2 separate regions of the Homo sapiens genome follow, and region 2 is linked to region 1. Evidence: fine-mapped expression QTL. A gene starts in region 1. The other region holds a variant in brackets. All regions are shown on one strand. Distances are between the middles of the regions. Region 1 holds the start of PPP2R2D (protein phosphatase 2 regulatory subunit Bdelta). Region 2 overlaps PPP2R2D (protein phosphatase 2 regulatory subunit Bdelta).

What was found. PIP is the estimated chance that this variant, and not a neighbour inherited with it, causes the effect.
Region 2: its variant is fine-mapped to the expression of PPP2R2D in lung (GTEx, PIP above 0.99).

Annotation. Positions count from the first base shown.
Region 1 is chr10:131,895,537-131,908,399 of GRCh38, reverse strand. PPP2R2D (protein phosphatase 2 regulatory subunit Bdelta) reads right to left here and starts at 7,392. Exons shown (of 9, transcript NM_018461.5): 1 at 7,245-7,392; 2 at 7,070-7,162. The coding sequence starts at 7,251. It also overlaps the pseudogene LOC100134362. RefSeq lists silencers at 6,583-6,632, 6,813-7,212, 7,283-7,792 and an enhancer at 8,033-8,132.
Region 2 is chr10:131,941,119-131,951,197 of GRCh38, reverse strand. It overlaps PPP2R2D (protein phosphatase 2 regulatory subunit Bdelta), which reads right to left. Exons shown (of 9, transcript NM_018461.5): 6 at 7,053-7,230; 7 at 5,739-5,903; 8 at 3,407-3,668. Among named protein-coding and RNA genes, the nearest start is that of BNIP3, 36 kb to the left of the region's middle. RefSeq lists enhancers at 2,214-2,715, 5,414-6,243. The variant T/C (reference allele first, on the strand shown) is at 6,323.

The DNA.
Region 1 (12,863 bases):
CTGAACGCTGAGGGGAGCTGGAGCAGGGACTCGCCAAGTGGGATTGGAGGTGGATTTAGAAGGATCAGCAGGGCTTAGGGAATGGACAGGAAGCAAAATAAATACTCTAGGCAAAGAAAGAAACAGGAGCAAAGATCAAGGGATGGGAATAATCACTGAATAATAACGTAAACATTAAGAGGCCAGGCCCAGTGGAAGGGATCTGGGTAGATGGACATGAAGCAGGTAAGGAAAAACAAGAAACTGCTATTTTTGTGTTTAAATATAGCTAAAACCAAGCCCCAATACTTTAAAATACAAGAGAATTAACAGTTGTATCTAATACTTGAAAAGCACTTTTCAAGTTGCAACAGCACTGCACATTGTTTGATCTTAACAAAAAGCTTCTGATTTAACTTCTAGATAAGCGAGCTGAAGCTCAGAAAGGGGCCCTCAGAGTTGAAAACAGCAGACACAAACCCAACCTGGAACTTCCCATCAGAACAGCAGACTGCTTAAAATCAGGGAACGTGGAAAATCACCAGGTATGATTCAATACCACCACATATCTTGTAAACTTAACTTCACGATGTAACGATGACCAGGCCAGCCTCCTGAGCGTTAAGATGTGGCTGTACTAAGCATGATGAGTCTGTGAATCTTTTTTTTTTTTTTTTGATATGGAGTCTCGCTCTGCTGCCCAGGCTGGAGGTGCAGTGGCGTGATCTCCGCTCACTGCAAGCTCCGCCTCCTGGGTTCATGCCATTCTCCTGCCTCAGCCTCCCCAGTAGCTGGGACTACAGGTGCCCGCGACCACACCCAGCTGATTTTTTGTATTTTTTTTAGTAGAGACGGGGTTTCACCCTGTTAGCCAGGATGGTCTCGATCTCCTGACCTCGTGATCCGCCCGCCTCGGCCTCCCAAAGTGCTGGGATTACAGGCGTGAACCACTGCGCCCGGCGAGTCTGTGAATCTTAAGGCATACAACTGACTTCCTAAAGGCAGAGGCTTCCTATGAAGCTCTCATAAGTCAAACTGCAAAATATTACTAGACTGTTTGCTTGTTTGATGGCCTTCCCCAGAGGATGCTTTCCTGAAGGTTCTCTTCAATGGCACAGATATAAATATTAAGTAAATGAAAATTCTACAATGGAATATAGAAATCAGACCGGAAATAATTCAAATAAGCAGACACCATGTCCCATTAAGACCAAAAAAAAAATATAAATGAATAAATACCAAATGCCCATTATCTGTACACAGAAGAAATCAATAAATATGACTGACAAGTTTTGCATTCACCAACACCGTATTTCATTGATTCTAAGTACATTTCCCCACATCTTAGTATCTCTGAAATTAGATGTAGATTTTATATATACATATAAAAGACATTATAGGAGATTATATATAAAAGACACACCTAATTTCAAAGATTATATATATACATATATAATTATTATTATTTTTTCTTTTTTCTGAGACAAGGTCTCACTCTATTGCCCAGGCTGGAGTGCAGTGGTGCAATCATAGCTCATTGCAGCCTCAACCTCCCTGGCTCAAGCGATGCCCCCACCTCAGCCTCCTGAGTAGCTGGGACTACAGGTGTGTACTACCATACCTGGCAAACGTCCCGAATTTCTTTCTTTTTTTTTTTTTTTTGGTAGAGACAAGATCTCACTATGTTGCCCAGGCTGGTCTCAAATTGCTGGGCTCAAGGGATCCTGCCATCTTGGCCTCCTGAAGTGCTGAGACTACAGGCGTGAGCCACCGAGCCAGACATTATCTTACATTCAATGAAACAGTAACTTTCTGGTGCTGATGCTACAGTTAACTTAATTTTTGTTACCTTTCTGCGACTTAAAATGTTTCTTTCAAAGTACCAATGTAAACTCCCTTGGAAAGGCTATCCTACCAGATTAACCAGATATCTATGTTACTTACATAACTCCCCAGACTCAAGCTTGACTTAAGCAAACAAACCTTTAGTTTTGTTTAGTCTATCTCTTTAGAAACAGGTTAATGTCTAATTCAAAGCAACAGATCATGGATTAAGAAACTGATTAAAGCAAAATCAACAAATAAAACCCCAATACACTTAAAACTACAAATTCTGAGAAGAAAGGAACCAGCTGTTATCAAGCTATAAAGCTATATAAAACCAGGTTCAATATAAGACCCTCCTCCCCCAACCCCTCCCCACGGTTTCTCCATAGGAGCAATTAGTGTAATATATAAAGGAGCAAGACCCATAGCTTCCCTGCAGGTAAGCAGGTTGCAGTCATGTGGAAAGTGACATCACAGGCAAAGGTGCTGCAGCACTTGCTTGACGTGCAGGTGTTTCACTTACTTACTGTCTCTGTGGTATCTACTCTTCAAATAGTTTGAGAATTGGTTGGAAAGTGATGCTATTCTTGAATCCTTGTTACTAATCTTCTATCATTTTGACACAGACTTCCTTTAAAGGCATTCCATTTTCATTTGCCTTCAAAAGCATTTTCACACGCCTCTTGGTAGTAAGATTTTCACCGAGCTTTAGAAGAACAGCTCCATCCCAAGGCTGGACGGCCGCATGCCACAGTGGGGCTTCATCAGTACTGTGCTGGCTGCAAATGGTCGCTGAAGCAGTACAGCGCTCCACGGCTCTGCGGCCAGTCGGCGTGGCTCCAAACCCTGGCCCTGCCATACACTCGCTTTGTGACCCAGGTTAATTGCTCCCACGCCTCGGATTCTGCATCTGAGACTGGGAAGAACAGTATTTCCTTCCTTCTTCGGTGGTGTGAAGATTCACTGACATAGGAAAAGCACTGCGAGCAATCTCTAGCACAGAATGACCACTCAGCAACTGTTACCTATCATGACCTTCGTGCTGGGTCCTCTACAAGGGCTGGGGTGGGAAGGGGGACAGCCAGCCTTCAAGCTTGAGGAGCTCAGTCTACCAGAGAGAGAAGCAAAGGATGAAATACCATGTGACATTGCAAAACACATCACATGCTGAATGAAGTACGTTCCAGGAGAGGGAGCAGGGGCTGGGTGAAGGTGATTCCATAACATGCAGAAAAAATCTGCACAACAGTTAACAATTTCCAGAAAGGAGCCACCGTTTAGAACCGCAACATCGTGGAATTAGAAGCTAACAAACAACTTTTCTACTTGCTTCCTGCTGGAAGCCCCCTGGTTTTACTATTTTAACTCTTGGTCAACTCAGCATATAAACTCACCTAGTCCCACCTTCCAGCAAAGGGAGGAGATGCAAGTCACCACTGACTGCTGCTTATACACCTGCTCATCAGCAGGACACTTAATAACTTCCTTGTGAGCTCAGCTCTACTCCTACCTGCAGGGGGATGGGAAGTCTGATGACCCAGTGGAATCACAACTCTTAGCAAAATGACCTGACCCATAGCTAAACCCAATTCTTTTAAAAAAAAAAGGGGGGTGGGGTGCGCATCAAATTTTACATAGGCCAGCACTTTCACCATAGGTTGATTCTGATTCCCCAGCCCAAAACTATTAGTTTTAAAAACAAAACAGAAATCAAAACAAAAACCAAAGGCTTTTCTATGTCACTCACTTCATGACCTCCAAAGTCAGGAGTGCCTACTCCTAGCCCTGCACCACTTCCTGTGCACTGGGCATCACCCCACTGAAGTCAGGAGAGGACCCAGGCCTTAATCTCTAAGGCTCCTTCTCCTTACCCATTGCAGAGAGGGCAGAAAGACGGCCAGAGTGCAGGGCTGTAGTAAAGCTCTACAGAGCTGAACTTGGCCCAGAACAAAACCTTCAAGAACAAAATGCCTCACAAGCCACAAATCTAAACAAACAAAATCTGCTATACCTTAAGTTCTACAGCCTGAGCAGCAGTGCACGATAAAAACCCCTGTGAACTGCCCATCTCTCTTTTTTTTTTTGAGACAAAGTCTTGCTCTGTCGCCCAGGCTGGAGTGCAGTGGCACGATCTCGGCTCACTGCAAGCTCTGCCTCCCGGGTTCATGCCATTCTCCTGCCTCAGCCTCCCAAGTAGCTGGGACTGCAGGCGCCCGCCATCACACCCGGCTAATTTTTGTATTTTTAGTAGAGACGGGGTTTCACCGTGTTAGCCAGGATGGTCTCGATCTCCTGACCTTGTGATCTGCCTGCCTCGGCCTCCCAAAGTGCTGGGATTACAAGCGTGAGCCACTGCGCCCGGCCATCTCTCTCCTTTTTTTTTTTTTTTTGAGACGGAGTCTCGCTCTGACGCCCAGGCTGGAGTGCAATGGCACCATCTCGCCTCACTGCAACCTCCACCTCCCAGGTTTAAGCAATCCTCCTGTCTCAGTCTCCTGAGGAGCTGGAATTACAGGCCGGCCCTGCCACGCCTGGCTAATTTTTGTATTTTTAGTAGAGATGGGGTTTCGCCATATTGGCCAGGCTAGTCTCAAACTCCTGACCTCAAGTGATCCACCCGCCTCAGCCTCCCAGAGTGCTGGGGTTACAGGTGTGAGTCACCGTACCCAGCCACCCATCTCTTATCTCTCACCAACATCTCTCCCTCAAGGTTGCGTTTGGGCATGACCAGCTTCTTGATCCTTGCTGCTCAGCAATCCCTGGTGACTAACGACTACACTTCCCTTCATCATCACTGACTCTCTGGTGTTAATACAAAGCAACGGTATCACAACTATGGGACAAATCGATGGTGACTTATAAATGTGTTAATCTGGATGGGTTACTATGGCCAAAGCATACATGGATTAAAATAGACAGCTCTGAATACACAGAATAACCAAAACACATGCAGATAATTACCACAAAGCAATGTTACAAAAGAAACCACGACAACTCGAAATACCAAACTTTTGGATTTACTCAAAATTTAACTTAAAATAGGGATTTAAAACTGCAAAAAGTTCCCATCAGTTTAATTCAGAGAACAAAGTATTTGTCAAGATTTTTTTTTTTTTTTTTTTTTTTTGAGATGGAGCCTTGTTCTATTGTCCAGGCTGGAGGGCAATGGCACGATCTCCACTCACTGCAACCTCCACCACCCGGGTTCAAGTGATTCTCCTGCCTCAGCCTCCCAGGTAGCTGGGATTACATGCATGTGCCACCACGCCCGGCTAACTTCTGTATTTTTAGCAGAGACGGGGTTTCACTGTGTTGGCCAGGCTGGTCTCAAACTCCTGACCTCAAGTGATCTGTCCACCTTGGCCTCCCAAAGTGCTGGAATTATAGGCATGAGCCACAACACCCGGCCCAAGATTTTTTTTAAAGAAAGAATACTATTTTCATATGTGTACAGTCACATTTAAAATATACTACCTTAGTTATACTTAAATTTTAATTCATTCAGCTTATCAATAATTTTTTTTTTTTTAAGTAAAGAAACCAGGCAGGTGCGGTGGCTCACGCCTATAATCTCAGCACCTTGGGAGACTGACGTGGGCAGACCACTTGAGCCCAGGAGTTCAAGACCAGCCTGGGCAACATGGCGAAATCCCCTACAACAATACAAAAATTAGCCTGGTGTGGTGGTGCACGCGTGTGTGTGGTCCTAGCTACTTCAGAGACTGAGGTGGGCGAATCGCTTGAGCCTAGGAGGCAGAGGTTGCAGTGAGCCCAGATCGCACCACTGCACTCCATCCAGCCTGGGCTACAAAGTGAGACCCTGTCTCCAAAAAACAAAATAAAGAGTTAACAGAAATTAAGGCAAGCATTAAGCCCTCTCACTTTCCTACTCCCAAACAAGTTTTGCTTTACTTGCGACAGAAATCACACTTGAGTAAGGCTGAACTGTCACTTGCTTAGCATATGCAAAATCAAACAAAAAAAGTAATGCATTTTAAAGAAATAAAATCAATAAACTTTTTAGATCACATAAAATGCACCTAGTTTTAATCTCAAACCATATATATTACGCATTTCTTAGAGCCCAGTTTCACCTGCTTAATAACCTAGGCCCTGTTTGTCCCAGGGGGCGCAGAATCTCCAGATGTCCTCAGGGGTCATGTGCCAAACCAGACACTGCCAGGGAGAGGTACAGGGTAGGGAAGAGGGAGTAAAAGTTCACGGGGTTGGGGGGGCCGAGATGGAGGGAAGTGAACAGGACGTCTGACAAGGGGCTTTTAGTAACTTGAGGCAGGGAAGGTGTATTTGGTGCAAACACCAATCATTTTTAAGAAAAGGTTAAAGGTTTACAATGTTCAGTAAGATGTATGAACAACAACAAAAAAGTCACTATGACTCTGAATCTGAAATATTAATCAAACTTCTAAGACTCGACCAAGTTCTCCATTCAACGGTGAAAAAGGAAAGCTACATAGCTTTTTAACTTTAAGGTGACAGGTAAGCTTCATGGGAAGCTGGGGTGGGAGGCACTTCCCAGTTCCCTCCCACCACCCTAAAACTTTGTGCCTGGGCCAATTTGAGAGTATGATTTAAGGAAAAGACCAGTGAACTTCAAGTAATACCATGAAGTTCAAGACTAAAATCTGGAATAGAGACCTTAAAATATATCAGTAGAGAAAGTAGCAGTACCTCACAGTAAAATTCAAGGATTTTAGAACCGCAGAAAGCAGACCTTAAGAATCAGGGAGCCGAGGCAACCAGCTCGCTCAAGAGCGCACCGCCGATGAAACGCAGAGCCTGGTGGGGGCCGAGGCCCCGACCCAGCCCTAGGCGCGTTCCCAGCCTCTGGGCCATTGTGCCGCGCTGCCCGAGCGCACGATATGGACTCCGTTCCCGTCCCCGGCTCCGCCGCGGTCTCCTCAGTTCCGCCCCAGGCAGGAGGCAGCCCCGGGCTTCGGTTCCGCCCCGGGCAGGAGGCAGCCCCAGGCGCTGGGTTCGGAGGACCCGGCCGCCCGTGACCTTGGTGACTTACATAAGTCCCGCCGCGGGCCCGACGCCTCCGCCCGTGCCCCGCGGGCCGGGACAGCGGACAGAGGACGGCCGCCCCCCGATCACGGCCCCCAGCTCGGCCCCTGGCCCCTGCCCCGCCCGGCCCCCATCCTCCTGCCTGCCTTCCACGGACGCTTGGGGCCCGGAGGCCGCGCGCGGCCGGGCTGGGAGCTGTCCGCGAGGGTCCCGGGGCGGGGCGCGGCGCGGGGCTCACCTTCGGCCACGTCCTCGTCGATGGCCCCCTTGACCTGCGAGAAGCACCACTGGAAGTCGTTGCCGCCCGCGGGGCAGCCGCCGCCTCCGGCTCCTGCAAACACAACGGGGCGGTCAGGCCGGCCGCGGCCCCCGCCCGCCCCCGTGGTCCCCGCCGGCCCGCGCAGACCCCTCACCTGCCATGGCAGCCGGCGGCGGGACGGGCGGGGACCGCGGCAGACCAGGGAGACGGCCTCCGCGCCGCTGCAGCCGAGCGCTCAGCCCCGGGGCCGCCACCACCGCCGGCGCCGCCGCCGCCGCCGCCGCCGCCGGGGAGGGATTTTTTTCCCTTTTCAAAATGGCGCCCAATGCCCGTCGCCCCGCTCGATGACGTCATCGCCCTCCGCCTCCTCGGACGGGCAGCGGACGGGGCGGGCCGCGGGGGCTGCCGGGGGCGCCCAATGCGCCTGCGCCCGGCGCCGCTCGGCTGTAGGGGGGAAGGGACGCCTGGGCGACTGCGGAGGGAAGCCGGGGTCGCCGGGCGCAGGCCAGCTCCTCGGCCCTCGGCCCTAGGCCTCCCGCAGTGGTCCGGTGTGCACCCGGCGCTCCCCAGAAGACTAGCGCCGCCGGCCGCCCCTACTCTCCGGGGACTCCCGGAGAGCCTAAGCTGCGGCCGGACACGCCTTCAGGGCGCCGCTTGGCCGGACACGCCCCCATCCCGCATCGGCCAATGGAAACGTGGGTTCTCCGTGGAACCGCCAATGGAGGACGCGCTTGGCGGCGGTGGGCGGGCATGTGGGCCGGCCTCACCTGAGCGCGCCGTACCTGAGCGCTGCCTCCCGCCCACTGCCCCCGACGCGGAGTCTCGCTCTGTTCCCCGGGCTGGAGTGCGGGGGCGCGATCTCGACTCCCTAAAAGCCTCGACCTCCTGGGCTCAATCCATCCTACTGCTTCAGCCTCGGAAGTAGCTGCGAGCACAGGCACGCGCCGCCAGGCTCGCTGATTTTTAAATTTTTTGTAGAGACGGGGGTCTATGTTGCTCAGGCTGGTCTCGAACTCCTGGGCTCGAGCCATCTGCCGGCCTCGGTCTCCCAATCCTGTCCACCTCCCTTTCGGAGCGCACCGTTGCTCACCAGATGGCTACCTTAGGGGTTCTTGGAGCTCCCAGTGCAGTCTTAGGGAAACAGGGCCGATCGTTTCATTTGCGGGTGGTTTTCTCTGGCATACTGAGCGATCATGGGTGCTCCTCGACTTACAGTGGGGCTACCCTCCCCGCAAATAAGCCCTTCCTAAGTCAAAAATGCATCTAATACCCAATCTACCCGTCGTAAAGTTGAAAAATCTGAAGTCGAGCTATCATCAGGGGGACTGTCCCTATGGGATTGATGTCCGGAATCAGAACTTCTTTCAGGGTAGCTGCGGTGGGCACTGATGGTATTGCACCACTAAAAGACAGTCGCTGCAAATCAGGAACATTCGTCCACTCCATTAATATTATTTATTGACAGCTCCTGCCACGTGCGGCACACTCCACAGCCCTGGGGGTGAGAGGTTAACAGAGCAGAGAAATCTCAGCCCTGGTAGAGCTTACCTTTCAGTGGGGGAGACAGACAATAAGGAAATAAATACATAATAAGTCGGAGCTGGAGAGAAAAATCAGGGAAGAAGGAAATGTGTATGGGGAGAGTTGGAGTCTTGCACGGGGTGACTGGAGAAGACTCAAGGATAAAGAGCAAACCATGCAGACGTCTAGGAAAGCTTGGCCAGGAAGGGGAGACCACCAAGTGCCAGGACAGGAAGGAGGGCCATGCCTGGCATGGGCAGGAGGCAGCCAGAAGCTGCGTGGGTGCAGAGTGAGTGGAGGGGAGGCCAGGGGTTGGAGTCAAGGCAGGGAGGTAAGTGGAGGAGGATGGACAGTGGGCAGGCCATTTAGGGGACTTGGACTCTGAATGAGATGGGCTCATGAACAGAAGACGATCGTGATGGACTTGGGCTTTTGGATGCTCTGCTGAGAATAGCTTGTGGGGACCCAAAGAGGGGAAGCAGGGAGACCAATCAGGTGGCCAGCTGGGCTGACCAGGCATGGGGATGAGGATAGAGTGGTGAACATGGGGTGGGGTGGTGAGAACCAGTCAGATTTCAGAGAAAAGTGCTTCGACAGCAGAGCCCCTGGGATTTGCTGATGGAAAAGATGCGGTGTGAGAGAAAGCAGGGACTTAGGAATGCCTGCTCTCGGGTGGTCTGAGCACCTGGAAGGATGGAGTTTCTGCAGCAGAAGGCACAGCTGGGTGGGGGCGGTGCAGCCCGACCAGAGGTTCGCTGTCAACACATAGTGCTGTTGCACAGACAGGCTGGGAGCACACAGGGAAGTCAGAGCCAGAGCATCAAGGTGAGAGCATTTAGAGGTCATTTCAAGTCAGGAAACTGGGTGAGGTCACCTCAGGAGGGAGGACAGATGGGGGACAGGACCAAGGACAGAGCCCTGAAGGGGTGAGGACGTGGAGGATGAGTGAGCAGCCTGCGAGGTGGGCTCCTGGAGAACCCATCTCCAGGATCCACTGAAGACAGGAGGGAGTGGCTGCTCTGTGATGCTATGTGATGAGTATACAGGAGTGACCATTTGGTTGTAGGGACTGGGAGGCCATTACTGACTTGGACGGAGCGGTGGCTATGGAATGGACTCAGATCACAAGTTTGCAGAGGGCTCTGGGGACAGTGGCAGGAGAGGAACTAGAGGCAGTGAATACCTACTTCTCTGTTGAGGAGAAGAAGAGCAGAAAAATGGGGCTGTAATCTTGTTTTTAAAATGTAGATTTAGCCTATCTGCCCAGGAAGACACTTGAAAACCTGAATTAATGACCAGATCTCTTTTATTTGTTAACTTAAAAACCTGACAATTTATAAATTTAGAAAAAGAGGAACTTTATTTCTTATAAATGGTTACAGCCAGCAAGGTGGCCATCCCCCAGGCCAAGATGGGAGATGGCTCTTCGTAGGAGGAGGAGTTGGGGCAGGAGCTCTATGCTGAACGGGTTGGCTAAACATACATAGACAACAGGCTTTGGGAGGAGCTATGAATACTCAGGAAGGGGCTCCTGACACGTGTATTATGTAACATAGGACCCAATCTCACTCTGTCGGGGAGACTAAACATTTGAATATATTACGACTGTAATCCCAGCACTTTGGGAGGCCAAGTCTGGCAGGTTACCTGAGGTCAGGAGTTCGAGATCAGCCTGGCTAACATGGCGAAACCCCCTGTCTACTAAAAATACAAAAATTAGCTGGGCGTGGTGGCGCCCGTATGTCTGTAGTCCTAGCTACTTGGGAGGCTGAGACAGGAGAATCCCTCCAACCTGGGAAGCAGAGGTTGCAGTGAGCCGAGATCGTGCCGTTACACTCCAGCCTGGGCGACAGAGCGAGACTCCGTCTCTAAATAAATAAATAAATAAATAAATAAGTAAATTAGGACTAGGCCCTGTACCTCAAGAGGTCTTTTCAGGACAGGAAGGCATGCAGATGTGCAACCTCTGTAAACCGGCCAGAACCAGTCCAAGGTCGGTGGTTTCTTATCAGGAGACAGTTACAGTCTTCTGTCCAATGAAAGCTGTAGTTACGGCTGCTGGAGCAGGGCTGGGGGTCACTTAGTGGCTGGTGGAGCTGCAGTTGCTTAATGTTGCTCCTATCAAGGCCAGTGCTTATTTAGCTGCTGGAGGGAAGGAAAACCCAACAGCAGTGGGAACGACGTTTTCTCTGTAAGTGTGCGGTGCGTGGCTTCACCCTCCCCCCGCACGGCCTTAGGCCCTGTTTATGATTTGGCATCTTACTGCCACAGAGTCCGTTCTGTCAGTCTTATGGTCTCTAGTTTAACGTTAACGCTGGTCTGTTGTGTCCAAACCACAAAAGGGCGGGGGTATCAGGAGGCCTGTCTGACCTCCCATCCCCCATTATAGCCTCAGTGTTGAGGTTTTCCTGGGGCCCCCCCTGGCCACAGGGGTGTTCGTTCAGCCAGTGGGGGATGTAGGATTTTATTCTTAGTTCCTATGTAACTGCTTTAATGTGTGTTAAATATGTCTTTTGAAGTGATGACAAGATAATTAGTTTTTGTTTAGAATGTATTTTCTGGTTCATTAGCTCCCATTAAATTAAACTAAAAACAAGATATAGCCACAAAAGTAACATATTCCTGAGACTGGGGGGCTGCCTTCCCTGCGTCCCACTGTGCATCAGCTGACCAGCAAGAGATTTTTAACTATTTTTTAAAAAGAGATTTTTAACTATTCTTCTTATGATGCTAAAAACTTAAAATATTTGGCTAAACCACAATGACTTTTGCGCCAACCTAATAGCTCAATGAATTTCTCTGTTTGGATTCTAATTGGTGTTTACAAGTTTCTGAGTATTGACAGCAATTTTATTTTTTAAAATTGTTTTTCAGATCTCACAGCTGAATTGAAAATGCCTGGTGTGTATTAGAATCTAGCCTATTGTAATCATAGAAGGCAGTACTGTTCAGTAACTAAAAGGCATGAGCTACTACTGATACAAACAGCAGTCCCAAATGAGTCCCCGAAATATTACGAAAATGAAAGGAGCCAGACACGGAGGCGTGCAAGCTGCATGCGCCCCTTTATTTTATCATACTTAGTCTCATGTGTCAATGTAGCGAGGGTATAGTATGTAGTTATTTCATCAGAACTAAGCCAAGTATTGCCACGAGGGTGTTTCGTGGATGTGGTTAACACCCACAGGCAGTTGACTTTGAGAAAAGGAGATTACCCTTGATAATATGAGTGAGCCTCATCCAATCAATCAAAGGCCTTCAGAACAAATACTGAGGTTTCTTGGAGAACAAATTCTGCCTCCAGGCTGCTGTATCAGCCCTTGCCTGAGCTAGCCTGCCGGCCTGCCCTGCTCACCCTGTGCACCCTCTGTTTTTGAACTTGTCAGCCTCCACAATTGTGTGAGTGAGTTCCTGAAAATAAAGCTCATTCCATACACGGTTTCTCTGAAGAATCCTGAAGTTCTAGAACAGGTGAGACTGCTCTACAGTGATTTTAAAAATGGCACAGGGGCTGGGCGTGGTGGCTCACGCCTGTAATCCCAGCACTTTGGGAGGCCGAGGTGGGCAGATCACAAGGTCAGGAGTTTGAGACCAGCCTGACCAACATGGTGAAACCCCATCTCTACTAAAAACACAAAAATTAGCCAGGTGTGGTGGCGCACGCCTGTAATCCCAGCTACTCAGGAGGCTGAGGCAGGAGAATTGCTTTAACCTGGGAGGCGGAGGTTGCAGTGAGCCGAGATCGCGCCACTGCACTCCAGCCTGGTGACAGAGCAAGACTCCATCTCAAAAAAAACGGCATGGGGCACGAGTGTGGGGATTGACTGGAGAGGGTGGGGGATGGACTGGAGAGAGTGGGAAAGAACTCCCTGGGTTGATGGAAGTGTTCTGCATCCTGATGGCCGCAGCTGTTAATGCAGCACGAATGGTTGTCAAGACTCATTGAAAAAGACACTTAAAGTGGACCCATTTTATTGTATGTGAATGATACCTCAATAAAACAGATTTTTTTAAAGGATTGTTTTATTTTAATGGCTGATCTATGTAATCACGGAGGCCAGTATGTACGGACAACGGGGGAGCTTTTATTTTTTGGTATCTTCCTCCTTGGACAAAGTCTTGAAGATCTCCTCCTTCTTGACTTGGAGGCGCTCTTCACGGCGCTTGCGTGCTTCCTTGGTCTTAGACCTGCGAGCCTCAGCCTAGTCAGCCAGGAGCTTCTTGCAGGCCTTGTCTGCCTTCAGCCTGTGGC
Region 2 (10,079 bases), 44 kb before region 1:
CTGGTCTCCACCCTCTCCCCCAAACCATCATCATTCTGATGGGCATGAAAGGACGTCCCTCTGGCTTTACTTGCTGATCACTAAGAAGGATGAGCATTTCTATTTATTTTTCCATTTCTGCGAAACCCCATTCATGGTTTTTGCTCTTTTCTGAGTTGTTTGCCACCTTCTTGTTGACAACTAATTCTGCACCTATTCTGGATACTTAATCTCTGTTCGTTATCCTTTTGTGGATTTTGTTTTCACTTTTAATTTCAATATAAAGAAGTTTAAAATTTAATGTAGTTGAATTTCTTAATGTTTTCCTTGGGCTTTTGGGGCCTTCTTAAAGAAGCCCTTGTTTCCAGAGCTCACAAAGATGTCTTAGGCTTAGAAACACTCAGAGCTTATTTATTTATTGTGTGGGGCTGGTGAGGGCTCTAATTTTTCTCCCCCAAACACAGATAACTAAGGCCGTCCAGGTGGCAGAGCTTCAGAGTTTGCACTGCTCTTCCCTGCAGGCTGCGTTCCTCTGCCTATCTGTCTCAGCCCCTTTCTGCAGGGCCAGGCTCCCTTTACAGCTCGCTCTACTGAGTTTCCTGTTGTGATACATTGTTTCCCATTTGAAAATGCCTTTATCACAAGCAGATTCTTGAACGAGCATCTACTTCAAGGCTTGATTCTAAGCTGGCGGTGGAGAGTAAGGAGTCACACTTGCTGGATCTGTCACACGGCTTCTGGCTCCCACTGTGGCCGTGGCAAAGCCGAGTCTCAGTCTCGGTGTCCGCTCTCAGAGGTAATTTGCGTTTTTTCCTTGGGTGCATTTAAGATATTCTCTTTGCGTTTGGTGTCCTGCAATTTCATTATGAGATGGATGGATGCTGTGCTCCCGATCCTGTGTATTCAGGCTTTCATAATTTAGAGAAAATTGCTGGCCACTGTCACTTTAAGCCTCACACCCCCAAACTTTGTTTAAACGTGTGCTGTGCCTCACCCTGGCCTCCACGGTTCCTAGTGTCTCTTGTTTTCTGTTTGGCTCTTTAGCCCGCATTTCTTCTGGTTTTCCTTTCCATCCACTAATACAAGATCTGTTTAGCCAAAATGGACCTGCTGCTAAACCCACACAGTTTCATCTGTCATACTTGTCATTTCTAGATGTTCTCTGACTCCTTTCCAGTCTCCACGTCATGTTTGGCGGTCATGTATCATACTTGTCATTTCTAGATGTTCTCTGACTCCTTTCCAGTCTCCACGTCATGTTTGGCGGTCATGTATCATACTTGTCATTTCTAGATGTTCTCTGACTCCTTTCCAGTCTCCACGTCATGTTTGGCGGTCATGTATCATACTTGTCATTTCTAGATGTTCTCTGACTCCTTTCCAGTCTCCACGTCATGTTTGGCGGTCATGTATCATACTTGTCATTTCTAGATGTTCTCTGACTCCTTTCCAGTCTCCACGTCATGTTTGGCGGTCATGTATCATACTTGTCATTTCTAGATGTTCCCTCTGATTCCTTTCCAGTCTCCAGGTCACGTTTAGCGGTCATGTGGCTCCTGGTTCAGGCTGTTTCCTTCCTCTAGTCTGTGAATATCTCAAGCATTCTTAGTTTATCTTCTTTAACTTAGGATCTCAACAGCTGCCTTCTCGGAGGTTCAGTTCTGCTGTGGTTCTGCTGACTTGCTCACGGTGGCTTTTCCTGTATGTGCTTGGTAATTTTCACCTGTGAGCTCATGTTTAGATGATTTTAATGTGACGAAATCCAGAGAGACCTGGGTGTGCTGGCAGCAGCTACCCAGCATGCGTGTTCTCACGGAGTTTGCCAATGCCATTCTCTCCACCTGGGCCACTTCTCAGGGCTGTGCTTCCAGCAAGCGGCCTTGAGGAATGAGGTCATGTCTCTTCTAGTCAAAGTGCAGGTGTGTTTACTGCCCGCTGTGAAAGCAGTGGGGTTCTCCAAGCTCAGTGTGCATCAGCCACGGCCTCAAGTGTCCACCCGTGGGGAACCCAGGCCAACGAGAGGCTCATGCTGCCAGCTGTGCCATGAGAACCCGGGAACCTCATGTCTTCAGTCAACATCCGTGAGATGCTACAGGCTGGCAGGTCAGTCTGCAAACAGAGTAGAAGCCAGATCTGGAAACACGCCGGTCCCTCCCGATGCCCGCACACAGCCCTCGTGGAGGCAGGAGCTCCACAGTGTGAGATTTTACAGATCATGATGTAGCTGGCACAAACCCAAACTGCAAACCCTTGTGAGGGGAGGTTTTGCTTCCACTTCTCAGGGCAGTGCTGGCCACCCCCATGCAAGGCCTCAGACAGACAAACTGCCCTTTGGACCCTATCTGCCAGTGGAGGGAGACACCATCTTCAGGGGTCCCTGTTCCAACTCTACACCTCGTGTGGGCCAAGGCTTCAGCTCTTGAAAATTACCAAGCACATACAGGAAAAGCCACCATGAGCAAGTCACCTCGTGTGGGACAAGGCTTCAGCTTTGCACCATAACCTGCTGTTCACAGGGGCAGTGGTTCCTGCTATGGGCTGATGCTCCTGAGGCCAGCCGGGGCTGCAAGGCTGCTCTCGGAATAGACGCCTTCAGAGGCTGCCATTCTGGTTTCAGCTCCCTCTTAGTTTCTGGCCGTTGTGAGATTTCCCTTGCTTATCTGTGAGCTCAACTATGCACCTGAAGAGACACCTGCTGTATCATATCCAGCATTTCTAGGTGTTTATGCCAGAGGGTTTTGCAGAATATCCAGTCAATCACTTATTGCCAATAGACTCCTCTGTTCTCTTGAATTCTGAACAAAAATTCTATATAAAAATGGTGCAAGACAATCTTCCATCATCTGAAACGTAACTTTTTGCATAATAAAAAAAACGTAACTCTCAACCACACTAATCATAGCTATCTTTAAAGAATGTATACAAAATAAATTATCAAGGTACTAGAACCATCACATTATAAATTACATTGGTGTTTCAGACCAGCCATGACCACGCTGTGTCTGGGCATGACAGGCAGTGGCTCTGGGGTGTTTTCATCTACTTCTCTCCAGAAGGAAAGGCAGACTGCAACGCGGTCATTCCAGTGAGGTGAATCACTTCCCCACTTCCTTCCTTTTCACTCATTATCAGCATAATAAAAAGTAATACACTATCATTCACTAAGCATTTAACACATAGCCGGCCTGTACCTAGTGCTATACTTCTTGTCTAAATATAAATGGAATGACAAGCTAGGTGAGAAACTTGCTCAGAGATCCTATTTTCTCTACCTTGATACTATCATCCATCAATCAAAAGGTCTGGAAAACAACACCCTATGAGCGTCCTCCTCTGACGCTGGAGGACAGCTCGCCTCCCTCACTGACCTTGCACTCTCGGAAACCAGCAAGCTTGGGGCGACAGCTCATCTCCACGCAGGCCTTACCTATCCGAACCGTTCCAGCAACACTCAAACTTGTCAAAGATGCAGTCGTTCTCATAGAGAGAGCAGAGCTTGCTGCGCAGGTACTCGTGGACCTGGTGGGTCTCCACCGGCCTGCTCTCCATGTTGAGGTCCCACACCTTCACCGACAGGTAGTCTCTGGTCATCATGTACCGCCCACTATGACTGAATTTTACATCGGATATGGATGAAATTATTTCTGAGAAGAAGGACCTACTGCTGGGATCTTCAGGCTCTTCAAAAACTGAAAAACAAAATAAAATGTTTTCAGCTTCTGTTTAAAAATCAGAGAACAAATCATTTTCAAGTTCAAGTAGGAAGTGGCCCCTTCAGAGAGACTCTGGAAGGGCTTGGCCTCAACACTAGGTCTTCTGATCTTTCTGATTCTCTAGGTTTTCTGATCTTCTGTGACTTCCGTGGGCAAGAGCTTCGGATAAGACATTCTAGCACCAGCTATGGACAAGGGATGGGCATGAGAAGCGTAGACGCCCAAGTCTCACCCGGACCCTGAATGAGAATCTCTAGGCAAGGTCCTGGGCACTGCCATCTGTGGGAGCTCCTCGGGGCATCCTGATGTGTGCCCAGGTTCAGCACCACCGCATTCCTGTAGGAGTGTCTCCGCGTCCTCATGGCACCAGGCCCGAGCACGTGAAATTCTATCGCATACACATCACAGGAAGACACAAACAGCATTATATGGTCATGCAGACACAGCGGTCTGTGCCTCTAAGAAACTGCCTGCTTTTTGGAGGGTCGACAGTTTGTGGGTCTGCAGGAGTGACCACCTTGACTGGCAACGCTGTGGTCCTGATTTTAACCACCAAGACGGTCCCGCCGGTCAAAGCCAGCCAGCCAAGGTTTGTCTCCAATACTGAATATACACAAGCTCTACTGTGACAAAACTGGATTCCTATTTTCAGAAAGATCCTCCCGCCTCAACCTCCAGGGTAGCTGGGACCACAGGTGAGCACCACTGCACCTGGCTTGTGCTTCCTTGACCTGAAGCTGCTTTAGGTTTTTTCTCTTTTTTCTTGATGCAGGAGCCTGTGTTTGTCGGCTTAGCATCTGAAATTAACTTGAAGCCAGCTGTGCCGACGCCAAGCATTTACTCAAATAAATCACTCTGATGACAAATAGAACTGGAATCTGAAATTATTTACTCAAGAATTTTATGCTTAAGATACAGGCCAAATGCTACGAAACACTCATCCTCATCGCAGGAATTCTAGTAGAAATACGAATTCTTAAAAACACACTCAACCTCAGGAAAGAGAACAGGCGAAAAGGCTGCTGCACACGGTCCATGGGCACATTCCACCGAGGCACTGGGGGCGCCGCTGCACATGAGCAGCGGCTCAGTCTGGTGGGATTGACTGGCGGCTTCCCCATCAGAGGAAGTCACTGGACGTGTGTCTACCTGCTGGCACTGGAGGAAGGGTCAGCAATGTTTCAGGACACTGGGACACGCTGACTACAGTGCTCTATAAAGTCAAGCCCATTCTTTATGGCTAAAAATAAAAACAAAACCAGAACCTCCCTCACCTAAAAGGAGCTTGAAAGCTCACTGGATTAAAATGCTAGACTTTCAGCTAAGGGAAGTGGCTTCCAATCCAGCCAAGCTCAACATGAACAGGAGCTCATTCCAACAGCTGGGAATGGCCTCCTGTGTGCTGGCGGCCTCAGCCCAGGTCTCACGCACAGAGGCAGAGGCAACGGGTGGCTCTTGGCGGGACTCAGTGCTGGCAGCCTCTGAGGAGACACCCAGGCTCTGGGCAGAAGTGACCCCGCTTCTCGGTGGTGCCAAAAGCACACTCACCCTACAGCCATAAGCCTGTGGGAAGCATGACCTCGAGTTCCACTTATTAGCAGCAGCCTCTGACACAGCCACACTCGGACGGCCCCAGCAAAGGAGGGCTCCCCAGTTGTGCAAAGGCACTTGGGGAACAGGAAGAACTCTCTAAGTCTTTGGAGTGTCTGAAGAACAAGTGGCTCTAAATGAGATGCTTTAAAAGACGCCAGGCGTGACCAGGTGCGGTGACTCACACCTGTAATCCCAGCACTTTGGGAGGCCGAGGTAGGGGGATCACCTGAGGTCAGACCAGTCTGGTCAACATGGTGAAACCCTGTCTGTACTAAAAATACAAAAACTAGCTGGGCATGGTGGCACCTGCCTGTGGTCCCAGCTACTCGGGAGGCCGAGGCAGAAGACTTGCTGGAACCCGGGAGGCGGAGCTTGCCGTGAGCCGAGACTGTGTCACTGCACCGCAGCCTGGGTGACAGAGCCAGACTCCATCTCAACAACAGACGCACTTACACTTGGAGTGTCTGTCGCACAGGGCCGAGGAGCGCATGTCACACAGGCGGATGGTCCCTTTGCTACTGCTGTAGACGAACACGTTGCACTGGTGCGGGTGGAACTCGGCTGCAGTGATGACTTCGGTCAGCTCCTCCATGTTAGCAGGCTTGATGTCCACGATGTCTGGGAGTGCATGGTTAAGGCACAGTGCTCAGCTCAGCTGGTTGTTAATTAGTCTACATTCAGTCACGCGAAATAGGACGCCAAATAATCCACGCAGTGAGGTTTAAGGGATTAGCTATTAAGAAGGCTGGTTACACATCCCGAATTCCAAAGGAGCGCCTGGTAAGGGGATTGGGATGAGCACACTCAGACTACAGCAACGCCCCGGCCCAGGGGGAGACACAGACAAGCGAACACCGCTTTCATCTTGCTGCTATTATTAATGTTATACAGAAAGCCCTTAATAGCAAGATAGTACATACTTAATCATATAAATAGGAAAACCAAGCTAGTACCATCTGTGCAAAATCCCACACTCCCACACAAAACTACAACACAAGAATGCCGCCAAATTCCAAAAGATGCTGCTCTTCCTGACA[T/C]GAAGAGCTTATTCTGTGTAGCTAGAACAGATCCAACAGAAATCCTATACAGAAATCCTTCAACTGAAAAAAATAAGAAAGGGCAGAATTCAGCTGTGGGCCAATTCAGACTAGCAGTCCCAGTTTCACCCTTCAAGCTGAAACAACTAAGAAAACCAACATACGACATGGAACCCCAGCTCAAGCCACTGGACAGCAGAGGGAGGACGGCAGGGACCCTGGAGAGGCTGCAGACGAAGCAAGCCCCATGCTCCCGGCTGCTGGCTGGAAAGGGGCCCATGTGAGGAGGGCTGGGGCCACCCAGACTGTGCACAGCCACAGAAGAACACAGGTTCTAACTGGAAGCTGCTGCTCAGATGGGTGATTAAACACTGCTCTAACCTAAGCCAGTATTTTCTATTATTCATTAGCAAATTTAGAAAAAAAAAAAGAACACATAATGTTGGTTTTTCAAATGTAGCCTATTTAAAACTGCCTCTGATTAAACCAGGCAGGCAGTGGACTTCAGGTAATTCCCATTATACAGATAACTTTTTCCCAAAGGTAGAAAGAAATTTGTATTTTTAGGGACAAACATTTCAAATCACAGAGAACTTACATCACAGGCTGCTGTGCAGTGATGGTATTTACAAGACTAGACTCCGAGATACAGGTGTATAAAGGGACGAGAGAAATTACTATCTAAAGAGCACCCTCGGGAAGACGCCAGTGTCCCTCTGAGGAAGGATACTAAAGCTTCTATCTGTGATTTCTAAGTGCCATAAATTAATTCTCAGGTCATCTGCAGAAAGATATGTTTCATGATCACTATTTACTGAAATGGAATTTATATGATATGTGTGAGCATTTGCAAAAATTCGCCGTGGACTCGCTTCTACCATAAGATCCATGGGCTTCAATATTGGGACCTAAAAATGGAAGGAAATAGGAATTCAAAACAAAGATCACAGCAGCACATAATTAGAACACTTATAGTAGATAACGAAAGAGGACAAGTTTATATTCATGGCTAAGTAATAATTCTGTACAGGCAATACCCCCAAATAACCAATTAGCAGAGTTATGAAAATATGCTACAAAATGGAATACTGTCTATTCCAAGTCTTCCCCTTGCTTCCATTACCGAGGTCGACATGTTCCTGCTGAAGAGAAGATCAGCTGGCAGGGTAACAAACTGCCCAGGCACCGAGGCCTGCGGCTCCCTCTCCTGTGTGTCCTCCAGTGGCCACACTGAGGCGCTGGACAGCAAAGTCCTCCTGGGTGGCTCAGCTGCACCCCTCCCTTTGTCCTCTCCTTGCAGCTAGATGCACACACCTCTTCTCACTGCACTAGGACTATGCTTCTCGGTGCAAACCCCACAAACCTCCACTGGCTCCAGGTACTGGCAGGGTGCACAGCAGGGTGCTGGGGAGCTGAGGATATTCCATTTCTTGGTCTGGGGCTGGCTACATGGGCATGTGCACCCTACAAACATTCATGGAGCTGGTCACTTATAGGGCAGATGTCTTATCTGGAGGTATGTATTATATATTACACTTCACTTGAGGTTAAAACAAAAAGTAGAAGGTACCTCCCGCCCCCATCTCTGTGTTGAGTGCTGTGGTCAGGGAGGCTTCCTAGGGAAGCCCAATTCGCACAGAAATAGAAAGGACAGAGAGGAGTGGGCGCTGGCTGCAGGCCGCCTATGGTCAGAGGTGAGAGCTCAGGCGTGAGGAATAGCATCACACATGAAAAAAGGAAAAAGGCCTGTGTCTCACTAACATCCAGCTGGAAGAAAAACATAAGCTTTAAAATCAAAACAAAAAATTAATGATAGTATTTTTTGTTATTCTTGTAATTAGAAACCAAAAGGGAGAGCCTTGAAAGCTTAGGGGAAAAAGAAAAGCTCTCAACTGAGTCTTGTCTGGCTGAATTCTGTAAAAAACCAACTTGGAAAAGTGTGTGTAGGGAGGCTTCCCTCATTTTAACCCAGGTAGTGCTGACCACACCCTTGGATTCTCTAGAGCAAGAAGAGTCAGTTCTACCAAGTTCAGGCTTAAAAACACACACCTACCCCAATCCTCTAACAAATTTCCCATTAATCAAAACATATGATAGCTGCAATACTTACAAAGATTCCTTCTTTTATTGAAAACATTTTAATTTGCATATAAAATAATTTGCTTTCATTTTTAGAGATGGGGTCTGGCTATGTTGCCCAGGCTGGTCTTTGAACTCCTGGGCTCAAGTGATCCTCCCATCTCGGTCTCCCAAAGTGCTGGGATTACAGGTATGAGCCACCATACCTGGCCAAGATTTCTTCTTTTAATTATATCCCTTTTCTGGCACTAAAATAATTTAAGAGCAAAAATTTAAAAACAGCAACATGTCTGACTCTTACCCAGTTAGGCTCAGATACATAAATAGCCCACTCTGAACTGTTAGAGAGGTAAGATCTCAAATACCGACCTAAGTCAATGTACAGAATTACCTGTCTGTGGTCTCTTCCCCATGCACCAACTAATGAAATAACTAGACTTCTCACACACCTTCAGTAGGGCCACCAATTATACCCGTTTTATTTAGGCTAAACCTACAAAAGCAGCCTTGAATAAAACCAAGACTGGGCCTAGTAAAGGCCTACTGTTCTCCCAAAATGAGCACGTGAGCTGATGGGTTGTGGCAGGGTCTGATCAGGAGGAACAGGGGTTTCTGAGGGTGGGGTGTGCACAGGTAACTGGGTGGGAGGTGGTGTTGGCTGCAGAAGAGATGGACAAGGCTGGAGGGGGTCAAGTGCCCACCCTCGGGGGTCCCATCACACTTCTACTTTAGGATCAGCAGTTTCATGATGATGGAACTGCACAACTCGTGTTACTGTCACTAAAAGTGATTTACACTAATTCAGGGGTGCAAAGGCGGCAGCACTGTGTATCAGACATCACCAACATTTTGGATCAAAACATCTTGGTTCAAATTAGGACCCTATAAACTAGATTTTCAGCAAATGCCACAGCCTTTCTCGCTTTGATGAACTCATAGGAAATACGGTGACAACATCGATGTGAGAAGTCTGAGGACACTCCTCCTGAGGAATGCACAACCCCAGGTGTAGCCACCCCACACGGCAAAGCTGGAGAAATGGCATCAGAACAGACCCAACATCACTCCCAGAGGCACATGTGTTAGGGAAAGGCTTCTGCGGTACAGCGTCCTCTGTAGCACTCTCCAAGACTAATGTGGAATGGGCTCACTCACTCAGTCTTCACTTGATAAACAATAGTGTAAAAGGGGCTGAAATCTCATTAAAAACCAACCAAACCACCCAACTCAACCACCCACCCCCCGCAACCAAACCACCCAACCACCCAAACAACCAACGGTTTTCCAATCTAGTAACGGCACCCCCTTGGGACCAGGCAGAGTTTCCTTCCAGGGGACACACCTCTGCACAGGTGCTGGTTTCTCACCAAGACACACCTGGGCTCGAGCCCAGTTTGCCGGACACCCTTCACCATGTTCCATCTAATTTAAGACAACATCAGTGGTGCGTAGCACCAGGCCAATTATAAGACATTGAGGTTTTGAGTTTTAGCCGGTTTCATAAATGTTAAAATATGAAAAAATTTAGGCATCAGAATTGATGAAATATGATCATTTCATACTACCAACAATGGAGCAAATAATTTAACAATTAAAAAAGTAATGATGCTCATGGATGGACAGGTGGAGAGTTCTGAACCATCAGCATCTGCCTAAACCAACCCCAAAGAAATTCCCC